4 linked regions of the Homo sapiens genome follow. The protein of the gene in region 1 interacts with the protein of each later gene in a pairwise test. Each region holds a gene or a part of one and is shown on either strand. Other genes may lie near its edges.

What was found. Proteins that work in one complex are often made in the same cells at the same time.
Region 2: the proteins of LARP7 (region 1) and PRPF40A interact in a two-hybrid assay, tested with the Homo sapiens proteins (one large-scale study listed by BioGRID and IntAct).
Region 3: the proteins of LARP7 (region 1) and DDX21 interact in binary tests that used the Homo sapiens proteins (3 or more experiments, as listed by UniProt).
Region 4: the proteins of LARP7 (region 1) and OASL interact in binary tests that used the Homo sapiens proteins (3 or more experiments, as listed by UniProt).

Annotation. Positions count from the first base shown.
Region 1 is NC_000004.12:112,639,825-112,644,038, forward strand, and holds part of LARP7 (la-related protein 7), read left to right. Parts: intron 1-4,214. UniProt on the Homo sapiens protein: RNA-binding protein that specifically binds distinct small nuclear RNA (snRNAs) and regulates their processing and function.
Region 2 is NC_000002.12:152,675,962-152,679,461, reverse strand, and holds part of PRPF40A (pre-mRNA-processing factor 40 homolog A), read left to right. Parts: coding exon 1-110; intron 111-352; coding exon 353-406; intron 407-1,986; coding exon 1,987-2,011; intron 2,012-2,682; coding exon 2,683-3,057; intron 3,058-3,500.
Region 3 is NC_000010.11:68,980,170-68,982,868, forward strand, and holds part of DDX21 (nucleolar RNA helicase 2), read left to right. Parts: intron 1-1,367; coding exon 1,368-1,412; intron 1,413-2,373; coding exon 2,374-2,643; 3' UTR 2,644-2,699.
Region 4 is NC_000012.12:121,025,747-121,029,246, forward strand, and holds part of OASL (2'-5'-oligoadenylate synthase-like protein), read right to left. Parts: intron 2,072-3,500; coding exon 1,830-2,071; intron 1-1,829.

The DNA.
Region 1 (4,214 bases):
TAATTGGATAGAATTATTGATAATTGGATAATTATCAATAATTTATAATTATAGATTATCAATTATAGAATTATAATTATCAATTATAGAATAATTGATAATTATAGCCTACGTTTGTGTTTGTTCGTTTTTGAGATGGAGACTGAATCTGTCTCCCAGACTGGAGTGCAGTGGTACGATCTCGAATCACTGCAACCTCTGCCTCCTGGGTTCAAGCGATTCTCCTGCCTCAGCCTCCCGAGTAGCTGGCATTACAGGCATGGGCCACCACACCCAGATAATTTTGTTATTTTTAGTAGAGACTGGGTTTCACTTTGTTGGCCAGGCTGGTCTTGAACTTCTGACCTCAAGTGATACACCTGGCTCGGCCTCCCAAAGTGCTGGGATTATAGGCGTGAACCACTGCACCTGGCCTATTTGTATTTTATTTACATCCCACAACCTTACAAAGAATTTGAAATGCTTAACACTTTACAGGTACTTTTAAATTTGTTTTTTTATTCAACAGATACTTAGGTACTGATGAAGTTAAAGTTCCTGCCTTCATAGTGTCTACATTCTGGTGGGATAGGTAGACAATAAAATTAAAATTCCAGGCCGGCCATGGTAGCTCACACCTGTAATCTCAGCACTTTGAGAGGCCCAAATGGGCAGATCACTTGAGGTCAGGAGTTTGAGACCAGCCTGGCCAAAATGATGAAACCGCATCTCTACTGAAAACAAAAATTAGCAGGGTGTGGTGACAGCTGCCTGTAATCCCAGCTACTTAGGAGGCTGAGGCAGGAGAATCACTTGAACCTGTGAGGCAGAAGTTGTAGTGAGCCAAGATTGTGCCACTGCAGTCCAGGCTGCACAACAGACTCCATCTCAATAAATAATTAAAAATAAAAAATAAAGTTATAATTCCAGGTAGTGACAACAAGATACAAGAATAAAAAATAGTGACTGAGGCAGTGGACGGAGTTAAGGTCAGCAGGGAGGGAATATTTTAGATTGAGCGGAAAGAGGTAAGTCTCTCTAAGAAGTGACATTTGCAGAGACCTAAGTGAACAAGGAAGTAATTCATACAGATACGGTAAGGAAGGTAAAGGGAGCAACAAGGGCAAAGGCCCTGAAGTGGGAATGGCTTTAGCATGTTTAAAGAACGAAAAGATGGTTGTTATGTTTGGACTGAGCCTGTTGGCAAGAATTGTGATAGATGAAATTAGAGAGATCCCCAGGCCAGATTATTTAAGATCCAGTCAACCACAGTAAGGTTTTTGGACTTTATTTTGAGTGTGATAAGAAACCTCTGAGCTGGGCGCGGTGGCTCACACCTGTAATCCTAGCACTTCGGGAGGCCAAGGCAGGCAGATCACCTGAGGTCAGGTGGCCAACATGATGAAACCCCGTCTCTACTAAAAATACAAAAAAAAATTAGCCAGGCGTGGTGGCACATGCCTATAGTCCCAGCTACTTGGGAGTTAAGGCAGGAGAATCTCTTGAACCCAGAGGGGGAGGTTGCAGTGAGCCGAGATCGCGCCACTGCACTCCAGCCTGGGTGACAGAGTGAGACTCCGTCTCAGGGAAAAAAAAAAAAAGAAACCTTTGGAGGAGTTTGTGTAAGGAATTGGCATGATCTGATTTACATATTTAAATGGTAATTCTATCTGGAGAATCGATTATAAGGGAAGAAGATTAGAAGCAGGCAGACTAGTAATAAAGTTCTTGTAGTTGTTCAGACAACGCAGTAGTAGCTTGGACCAGGTGCTTATGATGGAGGAAATGAGAATTATTCATATTTGGGATATATTTTAAAGTTAGAGCTAACAGAAATACTGATGAGTTGACCATGAGGTGTAAGGAAAAGGGAAATTAAGAATGATTTTAAGGCTTTTGCCTTTTCAGCAATTTTGTAATTGGTGTTTCTGAGATAGGGAAAATTGGTGGGAGGGGATTGTTAGCACTAGAGAGTCCTATTTTCACCATGTTAATTTTGAGATATCCTTTAGATAAACTAGTGGAGGTGTCAGGTGGACAGTTGAATATTGGAATGGGGAGCTAATGGGAGAAGATAGATTTGTAAAGCATCAGCATAAAGCCAATGAGCTTAAAGCCAGGATCCTCAGAAAGAATGAGTGTGTAAATGAGAAGGAAGCCCAGGACTGAGTCCAATTTAGGCATCATGTAAAGGTGTAGGGCACAGTGGGAGAGGTAGGGTGAAAGGAAATTGAGAAACTGAGATTGCAAAAGGGAATTGAAAAGGAAGAAGACTCGTTTGGAAGCTATATGAAGAAAATATTTTCAAGGAGGGAGTTACCAACTGCATTTGCTGCTGAGAGGTCAAGTAGACAGTGGAGCACATTGAGGAGCTTGTTTGCAGTTTCTCTAGAATGGTGATGAGGAAAACCTGACAGGATGGGTTGAAGTAAGAGCATGAGGTGAAGAACATGGTTGTGTGGTACTCAATGACACCTCATTGTTTTTCTATTATTAATTCTGACCTATAGTTGTGTTTTATGTCTTAAGCTAGCATCACCTAAATATATCATTACTTGTAAAATTTCAAAATTGGTACTTGATTGATCTACTGAAACCTAAAATGCCAAAATGTACTTCTGTTGAGTTTGATGAGAATGCATGTTTAGTTGGAGATTTGAGGTGAAATGCATTAAGGGCTTTGTACCCTCTTACTGGATATCACTTTGAAACACATTATCTATTTCTGTTACTATCAGCAGCATCACTGTAGCAGTTAGAGATTCTAACCAGCAGTCAGACTCAAGAGATGCAAATACTGCTTACCAAAGAAGAGTCAAGGCAAAAGATAGGGTAGATGCAGCTTCTTCATCCCACCAGAGGCCACCAAGCCATTTACCCATATCTAGCAATTACCCAAATTCACTACTTTTTTCTCCCATTTACCCACAACAGGCATGTATGCCTTCCCTAGATAAGGACCATGGTGTATTTAGGACACTTTGACACGTGAAAGCTTTAACCTCTTTTGCCTATCAATCTGTTGTTCTGGTCACGTAGGCATAAGGCCTCCATGCCATCTAATAGCTGCTCCAAACCAGGTGCAACATGGGAAACAGATACAACACCCCCATTAGTCTCTCCAGTTTCCAAGAAGACTGTATTATAGGAGACTGAGGTTATTCTCAAGCAGCCTGTATTATCCCAGGCCTGATATTAATCCTTTGCTCCTATACCACTAGTGATTCAATTCATTCAACAAAATCGAGGCACAATTTATTCAACACATTTTTAAGTGACTGTATGGCAGGGACTGACAATATATCAGTAAACAAACAAAAATCTCTGATTTCATTGATCTTACCATCTAGGAAGGATAAACAACAAAGAAATAAATTGCATAGTGGTGATAGTAATGTTAGAAGATGATAAATGCTATGAACAAAAATAAGGCAGGGGAGTTACTGTGTATGTATCCAGAAATTTGCATTATTAAATATGATTGTGGGAGGGGACCGCACTGAGGTGACATTTAAATAAACACTTGAAGTAGGAGAGCAAGCTGTGTTATCTCTGGGGATATGTGTTTCAAAGAGAACAGGTTTAAAAGACCCCGTTAGACATTGCTGGGTGAGCTTCAAGAAGTGCAAGGACTGTATGGCTGGAGCTGACAAAGCAAAGGGGAAGAGATACTGAAAGTAACTTGAGGAAGGAGGGGGTTAGAAATTGCTGCCCAAGAAATAAACACTGGGATGAGAAGGCCACTTGAAAAGGCTGATTTATGGCTGGGCGCGGTGGCTCACACCTATAATCCCAGCACTTTGGGAGGCTGAGGCTGGCGAATCACCTGAGGTCAGGAGTTCGAGACCAGCCTGGCCAACATGGTGAAACTCTGTCTCTACTAAAAATACAAAAATTAGCCGGGTGTGATTGGCAGTGGTGCCTGTATTCCCAGCTACTTGGGAGGCTGAGGCAGGGAGAATCGCTTGAACCCAGGAGGCAGAGCTTGCAGTAAGCTGAGATCATGCCACTGCACTCCAGCCTGGGCAACAGAGGAAGACTGCCTCAAAGAAAAGAGAAGAGAAGAAGAAAGAGAAGAGAGAAGAGGCTGATTTCTACAGCTTACCAGTTGAATTCTGCCCCTAGAAAGCAGAAATTAACATTTTAAAAATCAAAATTGCCAGGCGCGGCGGCTCATGTCTGTAATCCTAGCACTTTGGGAGGCGGAGGCGGGCAGATCACCAGGACAGCAATTC
Region 2 (3,500 bases), on another chromosome or scaffold:
TAAATGCCCCTGGAAGGAATACAAATCAGATTCTGGAAAGCCTTACTATTATAATTCTCAAACAAAAGAATCTCGCTGGGCCAAACCTAAAGAACTTGAGGATCTTGAAGGTAAAATGGGGAAAAGTAGTTTTCAATGTATATGTTTTACATATATATGCCATTCACTTTGAAACAATTCCTCCAGAATAGGATTGTTCAAACAAAGGCCTTATTTTTTTTTTTAATTAAATGATTAGAACATTTAAAATGGCGTATAACAGTTTTTTGGGCTCTTATTTTCTTGTTGCTTTAGATCTCAGTTCTGTAGATTTTAAATAGATTTTTATTTGATTTGATTCCACTGAAACTAGGATACCAGAATACCATTGTTGCTGGAAGTCTTATTACAAAATCAAACCTGCATGGTGAGCTGCTTTGATAATTCATTTTCTGTCATACTTAACATTTTTATTAGAGTATGTCACTAATATTCACTAACCATAATTGGATAAATCTGCAGTGAAAAATCTCTAAGAATTCTTTTCATTAAAGGGTTATATTATAAATGAGCTTGTAGCTTTTAAAGTCGTACTTTGGTTTTTAGAAAAAAGATCGTTTATCATTCAATTGAACAAGGAGTTCATATACAAAATTTCCAAGTCCTACTATGAGTGGTGCATACATAGAACATGTGTTTTAACTCATTTCATGGTAATAGATAGTGGAGAACCTTGAATCTGTATCCATTTATATTTTGTTAGTATATTGTCAGACTATATATTTAATGCTAGTTTTGTTTAGCACAGTGTTGCAAAATAGCCTTGATATGTTCTTTATGGAAGAATTAAGGTAAACCAAGTATCATGCCTTACTTATAAAGGGAAAATTTTTCAACATTGGAACTAATCAGAATAACCCTTAAAAATCTAGAAATACTTAATACTAAATATAAAACCTAAGACTTAAAATAGAGATAATAAGTAAGGATTGAAAATCTAGTTTTTATACTCACTTCTAATAGAATCTAGTGTCATAAATTATACAAAACTAGAAGCAGCAGATTGTAGGAGAATGGGGCTAATAAAGTAGATAGTGATGTGGAATGACATCTGGCAGGAAAAGAGAATAAAAATTTCCTAAAAGACTGTCATATTAAGCCCCTTTACCTTTTCCTTGTGCCACCTCATTAGATAGATAGATCATCATTGTATCAGAAAAATGTTAATTTATATTATTAATGATAACTTTGTAAGTATGTTTTTTCAGCCATCCTAAACAGATTTTCAGAAATGTTTTTCTTTAAAGGGTGATAAGTTTTAAAAATTTTTTTTATAAAGAGTTAGGCTTGTATTATTACTTAATGTGGAGAACCTCATTCCCTAGTAATGTTAAATAAAAGGTATTTTTGTTACATCCAAAGGAAAATGTACTGGAATGAAAAATGAAATTGTGCAGATCTTTAAAGCTCAGTTTAAGTTACCTATACTAGCATTGGCTAATAATAATATTGTAGATAGGTAGATTCCCAGTTGATCATTTATGAATTATCAAGCTCATTTCTGATATAACCCTACTACAAATAGTTGGTGTGCGTAACTATCTATCTACTTGTCAATGCTAGTATATATGTGCTGGAATTTTATAATAAATTTGATCCCATTTTGAATTTAGTATCTTAAAAATATATCAAACTAGTCTCATCCCTGAAGAAAATACAGTTTTCATCCAGAATTATGCAGATACTTTCATAGAGTTGTTGCAGCAGCCTTTGGGAAAGCAGCAGCATGGAATAAGCTTTCCTAGTAATTACTGTTATTTAAGTTTGTTGTATTCTTTATTTGCTATACTAGACTTTCGGAGCAAGAATTTGTTCTGTAAAAGTGATTTTTTATTTTTTAGGATGGTAAATGAAATCCTATTGTATGATACTTTATCTTCTTTTAAAGTTTGTTTTCAGTGATTATATTTTAAAACTAGTAGATGACTTTTTTTCTCTCTTTAATAGCAATGATCAAAGCTGAAGAAAGCAGGTAAGCAATTTTGGACATCAATTTTTATTTACAAATTTGGTCTCTCCTATGATATCCTTGTGTTTTCTCAATTTTCATAATACAAATAATTAACATGTTAGGCTTGATATTTTGATGTCCTTGTAGCATTTTGTTGAGGAAAAATTAGGGAGGGGGATATTTACTCAATTTGATGTTTTGCTATACAGTAATTATTAGAATTTGGACTGTATCCCTTAACAAATTAAGAAGACTGTGTTACAGAAGAGTCCCAAATTCCGTTTGAGTTGATTAGGGAATGGACGAAATATATCTGTGTATCTCTTCCTTTATATAGGGTTTCCTCTAAATGGGCAAACTGGAGAAAATTTAAAGTTCTTAGAGAACTTTCTAATACAGGTCATTTTTCGTGGTGTAAATACAGTCTGATAGATTGGGTATTTTATAAATGTGAACGCTTACTGAACTTTTGAGTGCCTGTAATACATTACCATGAATGTTAACGGAATTAAAGTAGTACAGTTACATTCTGTGGTTTTAAAATCTTTTTTAATGGGCTTGGCATTTCTTGCCGTTTTTTCCTTCAATTATTTTTCTTATTATTTGATTTTATGACCATTTTAAAGCTACCTTTATTTAGCTTTCTGATTACAATAATGAAATGACCAGTGTTCTCTTTTTTTAATGTATAGTAAGCAAGAAGAGTGCACCACAACATCAACAGCCCCAGTCCCTACAACAGAAATTCCGACCACAATGAGCACCATGGCTGCTGCCGAAGCAGCAGCTGCTGTTGTTGCAGCAGCAGCAGCGGCAGCAGCAGCAGCAGCTGCAGCCAATGCTAATGCTTCCACTTCTGCTTCTAATACTGTCAGTGGAACTGTTCCAGTTGTTCCTGAGCCTGAAGTTACTTCCATTGTTGCTACTGTTGTAGATAATGAGAATACAGTAACTATTTCAACTGAGGAACAAGCACAACTTACTAGTACCCCTGCTATTCAGGATCAAAGTGTGGAAGTATCCAGTAATACTGGAGAAGAAACATCTAAGCAAGAAACTGTAGCTGAGTAAGTTTAGTAACTTGTCTTCTGAAAATCAGTACCAGATTGCATTAAATAAAAGTAATTGCCAGTTTAGTTAGTGGCCATTAATAGTTTAAATAAATTTTTTTGAGAATCGTAATATCACCGTTAAGACAGTTGATCAGTTTTCAGGCCGAATTTTGGAGGGTTATGCCAGCAAACTTGAAAAATAGTTCAGTGAAATTTTAACAAGTAGAGCCAAGGCTAGGGAGTTGGGGCACAAATCTAAAAGATTGCCAAAAACCTTAGTAAGCAAGATACATCATATTTTGATGCAATATTTTACATCAGATCAGTGCAAAAATTCATGATTAACAAACTATCAGTATTTTCAGTTAAGACAGGTGTATTGTTTCTTCTTTGGTTATTGGTGTTTTGGGTTTCAACCTCCTATAAATCAGTTAAAAAAATACAGCTTTGTAGAAAAA
Region 3 (2,699 bases), on another chromosome or scaffold:
GCAGAGGTTGCGGTGAGCCGAGATCGCGCCATTACACTCCAGCTTGGGCAACAAGAGTGAAACTCCGTCTTAAAAAAAAAATTTTATATATATATAAATCTTTTCCTCCAAAGTAGCTTTTATGACTTTGCTTAGCCTTAAATCTTACCAGGCAATGTTAGGGGCGTCTTTATCTGTACTTCAGAGTCTTTAGGACACATGTTTATGCAGGTAAACTTTTACCTTGCTGTGTTTGCTAATGGAGAGCCTCAAGAACACTCAAAGGCAAAAACTGTTTTCTAATTACCTCTATACCCAGTGAATGCCTGGGATTATACTCTACTTCGTAAATATGTAAGCGAAGATTCCCATGAATGGCAAAATCCACCAGTAGGTGATGATACCTATGTTATGATTGGGTAAATTTTGGGGTGAAAGGGGTGTTCCTTATAAAATATTGCAGTTGAAGACAGCAGGGAGAGGAGTGCCTGTATTAGTTAACACATAGTTTGACTATATTTTTAGACGATTTCCTTGATTGGAGAGGATGGCACTTAATATTAAAGATGGTGTCCTGGCTAGGTGCCATGGCTCACACCTGTAATCTCAGTATTTTGGGAGGCTGAGCTGGGAAGATAATTCTTGAGACCAGCCTGGGTAATGTAGTGAGACCCTGTCTCTACCAAAAAAAAAAAAAAAAAAAAGCCAGATGTAGTGGCATGCACCTGTAGGAATTCAAAGTTACAGTGAGTTGTTAATTGCACCACTGCACTCCAGCCTAGGCAGTAGAGCAAGACCCTATCTTAAGAGGGAAAAAAAAAAGATGGTGTCCTGTATTATTTTTTTCATACTCTTACAGAAGGCTGAATTAAGAAAAACCAGAAAATCAACAATAGAAGATCACTTGTTTTTCTGCTTTTAATTAGGTCATTCTGAATAGCTGGCATTGCTTTTCTGATGGAAGGCAGTATATAGTTTAGACTATAGGTTTTAGAGCCATACAGACTAGATTTTAAATACTTGTGCCATTTAATAGCTGTGGGGCCTTAGACAAGTCAGCTAACCTTTCCAAGCCTGTTTGCTCAGCAATAAAATGTAGCTAATAGCCACTAGGGGGTTAGCACAGTGTAATAGCTAAGACTCTGTCTATAGTTAGAAAGTTCTAAATCATTTGGGGTTCTTTTTTTCAATGTTCCTTGTCTTTCTGCAGTGTACTTTTGGCAGCTATAATGTATTAGCTTTGGTCTAAAGTTCATCTAAAATTATACCTGGTGGTTTTTTTGCTTTATGTTTTTTGTTTTCTTTTTTTTAAAGAATACGTGGTCTTTTAAAGGGAGTATTTTTCATGTGCGTTGGTTGGATTAACTTCCATTTGCTTTGATTTCTAGGGTGTTTGCTTTGATGTACCTACCGCATCAGTAACAGAAATACAGGTATTCTTTTCCCTTAGATTTTAAAGTTAACATACCTAAATTGTAGAATGTTAATTATGAAAATAGAGAATAATAGATTGGGAAACAATAGTTCTGGTTCCTTTAGTAAGAGATAATCGATAATTAAATTTTGGAATATTCCCCCCTAACTTTTTAATTCTGATATTTTTGTAGTTGAACCCACCTGGTTTCTATATTTCCTTTATACAAAGTTGTGAACGATATCCAGCTCTCCCCACCCTTTAACACTTATATATGGTATATAGATTTTGTGTGTGTGTGTGTGTGTGTGCATGTGTGTGTGTGTTTTCAGACAGAGTCTCGCTCTGTCGCCCAGGCTGGAGTGCAGTGGTGCAATCTCGGTTCACTGCTACCTCCGCCTCCCGGGTTCAAGCGATTCTCTTGCCTCAGCTTCCCAAGTAGCTGGGATTATAGGCCCATCACTACCCCCAGCTAATTTTTTGTATTTTTAGTAGAGACGGGGGTTTCGCCATGTTGGCCAGGCTGGTCTCGAACTCCTGACCGCGGGTGATCCACCCACCTCCCAAAGTGCTGGAATTACAGGCATGAGCCACCACGTCCAGCCTACAGGTTTTCATAGACATTTAAAATTGTTACATCTTTATTCAATACTGTGAGAAATGTGTGCTTAATATATTTGTTTTATTACCTTTGGCTGTAGATACCCTGTAGCAATTGAGTTGAATAAATGGTTTAATAACTTAATAAATGAAGTAGTGATGAGGGCTATTTCTCATAATGAAACTGTGTTTTCCCACACTTCAGGGACACTGGCTTTTGGACCATGATGGGTGGCCAGTGTTATTTTTGACCAGTGACTTGTTAAGCACTTATGTTATCACCTTTTCTTTGAAGAAGTGGCAAATATTTTGTTTTTCTCATGCTTTTTAAAAATTGAATACTAATTAAAGCACACAAAAACAAAACATTCTCTCAACAGGAGAAATGGCATGATTCACGACGCTGGCAGCTCTCTGTGGCCACAGAGCAACCAGAACTGGAAGGACCACGGGAAGGATATGGAGGCTTCAGGGGACAGCGGGAAGGCAGTCGAGGCTTCAGGGGACAGCGGGACGGAAACAGAAGATTCAGAGGACAGCGGGAAGGCAGTAGAGGCCCGAGAGGACAGCGATCAGGAGGTGGCAACAAAAGTAACAGATCCCAAAACAAAGGCCAGAAGCGGAGTTTCAGTAAAGCATTTGGTCAATAATTAGAAATAGAAGATTTATATAGCAAAAAGAGAATGATGTTTGGCAATATAGAACT
Region 4 (3,500 bases), on another chromosome or scaffold:
GCAAGACTCCATTAAAAAAAAAAAAACAAAACCCAAAAACAAACAAAAAAAACCCAGCCCTTTGTACTCCAGGGCTTGGGAGGGAGCTGCGACTTCATCTGTGTAATCGAATGTGACACAGGCTACTGGAATGAACTGGACTTTGGGCTCCAGGCTGGCTCCTCCCAACCCTGACTGCTCCCTAAAACAGTCCTGCCTGAAAGTGCCAGGCTGTCCTATGGGGTGGGGTCACTGATCTAAAGTGGCTCATTCTGTTGGCTGGCAGGTGACCCAACACATGGGGTCTGTGTCCCGTGACCAGGAATCAGACTGGTTCTCTCTGGGGTTTGGACATGGGGATGATGGAGATCCCTTATACCTGGGAGGCAGAGGGGAGCCGGACAGGTGTGGAGAGAGAAGCAGAGGCTGAGGGGAAAAGTGCTGTAGTTCATGAGAGAGAGTGACAGAGAGAGAGAGGGAGTCTCAGGTCCTGATGCTTTCTCGATTTTTCTGGCCATGGTTATAATAAATCCTCTTTTCATGAGCAGACCTGGCTTTTCTTCCTTACAAAAGAGACCCAATACTACATAACAGAACACTAAATACTGTGATGTTGCTTACACAGGCCCAGAGCTTCTAACACAGAGAGTTGTCTGGGTTGGGCTTCCCCTGAAGCAGATCCCCAGATAAGGATTTGGCTTATTTGGAAAGTGATCCCAGGAAGCACAAATAAGGGAGTGAGACAGTGAGACAGATAAGGGAAGGCAGACAACAAAGAGTGGGTATTGAAGTAATTACTACTGTGGTCCACTGGAGGCGATCTTTAGGAAAGAGTATGGAATGGGGCCCAGTGCGGTGGCTCACGCCTGTAAGCCCAGTACTTTGGGAGGCCAAGGCAGGCGCATCACCTGAGGTCAGGAGTTTGAGACCAGCCTGGCCAACATGGCAAAGCACTGTCTCTACAAAAATACAAAAATCAGCTGGGTGTGGGTTGTAGGCGCCTGTAATCTCAGCTACTCAGAAGCCTGAGGGAGGGGAATCACTCGAACCCAGGAGGCAGAGGTTGCAATGAGTGGAGATTGCGCCACTGCACTCCACCCTGGGTGACAGAGCAAAACTCTGTCTTAAAAAAAAAAAAAAAAAGTTACGCAATGAGACCCAGATTCCTTCCATCTTTTGGGTGAGGGAGCTGTGGTATTTATCCACCAACTCCCACCAGATCTGGTGGAGGGCTCTTCTCAGAGTGGGTCTGCTGGCAAAGGGATGCAGGTGCTGACAGCTGGAAGTGGAACCAACCTTCCCTAGAACGGTAAAGGCCGAGAGGATATGAATGGGACGCTGACAGCACATGCTCCAATATAAGCATTTACTCAGCATCTGCCAGATGCTAGATATTGTGGATCCTTAACACAGATTTTCTCCAACCCTTACATCAATCCTATGTCGTAGGTTCCAGTTTACTCCTGTCTTATGGATAAGGGATTGAGGCTCATAGCAGTAGGAAAATGGCTGAGCTGGGATTTAAACTTGAGTCTCCAAGATTCTTTCCATTTTCCCATGCTAGCTCCTACAAAGCACTGAAATGGTCTTCAGAGAGCAAGAAGGCCAAGCTAAGGTGGAGGGTGGCTTAGGAAACAAGGAACAGGCTTCTACCCGCCCCATGGCCCCCCAGTGACTTTGATAAGCCACCAACTTGAGATGCCAGCTGTGTTGGTGTGGGAGGTCGATGCTCAACTATGGTGGCAGCCTTACTGCTTAATACAGCCAATCCATAAAACTCTATGCCACGTTACACTAGCCCGTCTCTCTTTTTTTCTGTAAGATTTGGTGGGCAAACAGTGGTCCAGTACCTCTCTTTTTTGAGCTGTTTTCTGACACAATCCTCAATGATTGCATTGTGGAGTGTGTAGTACTTGGTCCAGTAGATACAGATGACTTCATACTCCAGGAGCAGGTCCATCACAGTGGTGAAGCCTTCGTCCAACATGAAATTCTCGTCTTCTTCAGTACCCATTTCCCAGGCATAGATGGTTAGAAGTTCAAGAGCATAGAGAGGGGGCAGATTGGCTCTGGGGGACCTGGCTTTCACATACTGTTGAAAGAGATGGGAAGACAGAGAGAGAGAGACCCTAAGATTCTGTGTAAGGATGGCGTTGGACCAGAAGCTGAGAAATCCAAGTTCTAGTCCTGGCTCTGCTGCCTACTGGCTGTGTGACCTTGGCCATGTCACATTCCATCTCTAGACATAGGTTTCACCATTTTAGAATTAAAGGGCTGAGTTAGTCCATTGGGCTTCAATATATGCTCAACAGATGTAACTCCTGGAATGAACTTATGAACAGGTATGAGCAGATTGCGCTCGGTCACAAACATTCTAGCCTAAGCAGTCCCATTTAAATCTATTTTAATGTATTGAGCTGCTGAGAAATGTTTCTTAAAAGAAAGGAAAGGTTTCCTTAGATAGAGGGAAAAAATGGTAATAGGTGAGATTCTGTAGTGAAGATTGGGGTTGCCTCTCTAGCAGACATTCTTTCCTTCCCCATTGCATAGTAGCCATGATGTTTGGAAGGGGTTGACCCCCACCCGCAGCTCCAGGATGGGCCCTGACTGGCACAGTCCTATCAGCATAAACCTTTCCCCCTTGCAAGTGATTGCTTCAAGAGAAGGCATGCGATCTAAGTTGGCTCAACTAGAGTAAAGCCTAGTTCTTTTGTTCAGTGGTTGAAAGAAGAGAAGTCCTCCCATGTGTGAATATGAGGGCAGGAATAGTTGTGGCCATTTTGCCACCAAGAGGGAAACAAGCCAAAGGACCAAGCTGACATATAGAGGAATGAGAAGCTGAGAGAATTCCAGAGAAACAGAGCCAGTGCCCTCACCAGTGCCTGAAACCCGCCCCCCCCGCCCGCCCCCCCTACTGTTTAGGGGTTTTCCTACATAAGCTGATAATTCCCTTTATTGTTTAAGCCAGTTTGAGTTGGTTTTTGTGTTTTTCTCTTACTTGCAAAAGGAAGCATCTTAACTGACAGTGGTCACTTCCTGTGTTAAGAATCTCACTGAGGCCGGGCGCAGTGCCTCCCGCCCGTAATCCCAGCACCTTGGGAGGCCGAGGCGGGTGGATCACTTGAGGCCAGGAGTTCGAGACCAGCTTGGCCAACATGGTGAAACCCCGTCTCTACTAAAAATACAAAAATTAGCCAGGTGTGGTGGCAGGTGCCTGTAATCCCAGCTACTTGGGAGGCTGAGGCGGGAGAATCGCTTGAACCCAGGAGGAGGAGGTTGCAGTGAACCAAGATCATGCCACTGCACTCCAGCCTGGGCAAGAGTGAGAACTTGTCTCAGAAAAAAAAAAAAAAAAAAAAAAAGAATTTCACTGATACATTGATATTTAGCCAGAAAGTGAAAAATTTTGGTCAAATATTCAGTAGTTTGATTTGTGGAAGTAAAACTGACATATTTTCCTATGGCCATCATATATGAATATTAGCTCCCATCCCAAAGTCAGAGGAGAAAAAAAAAAGCTA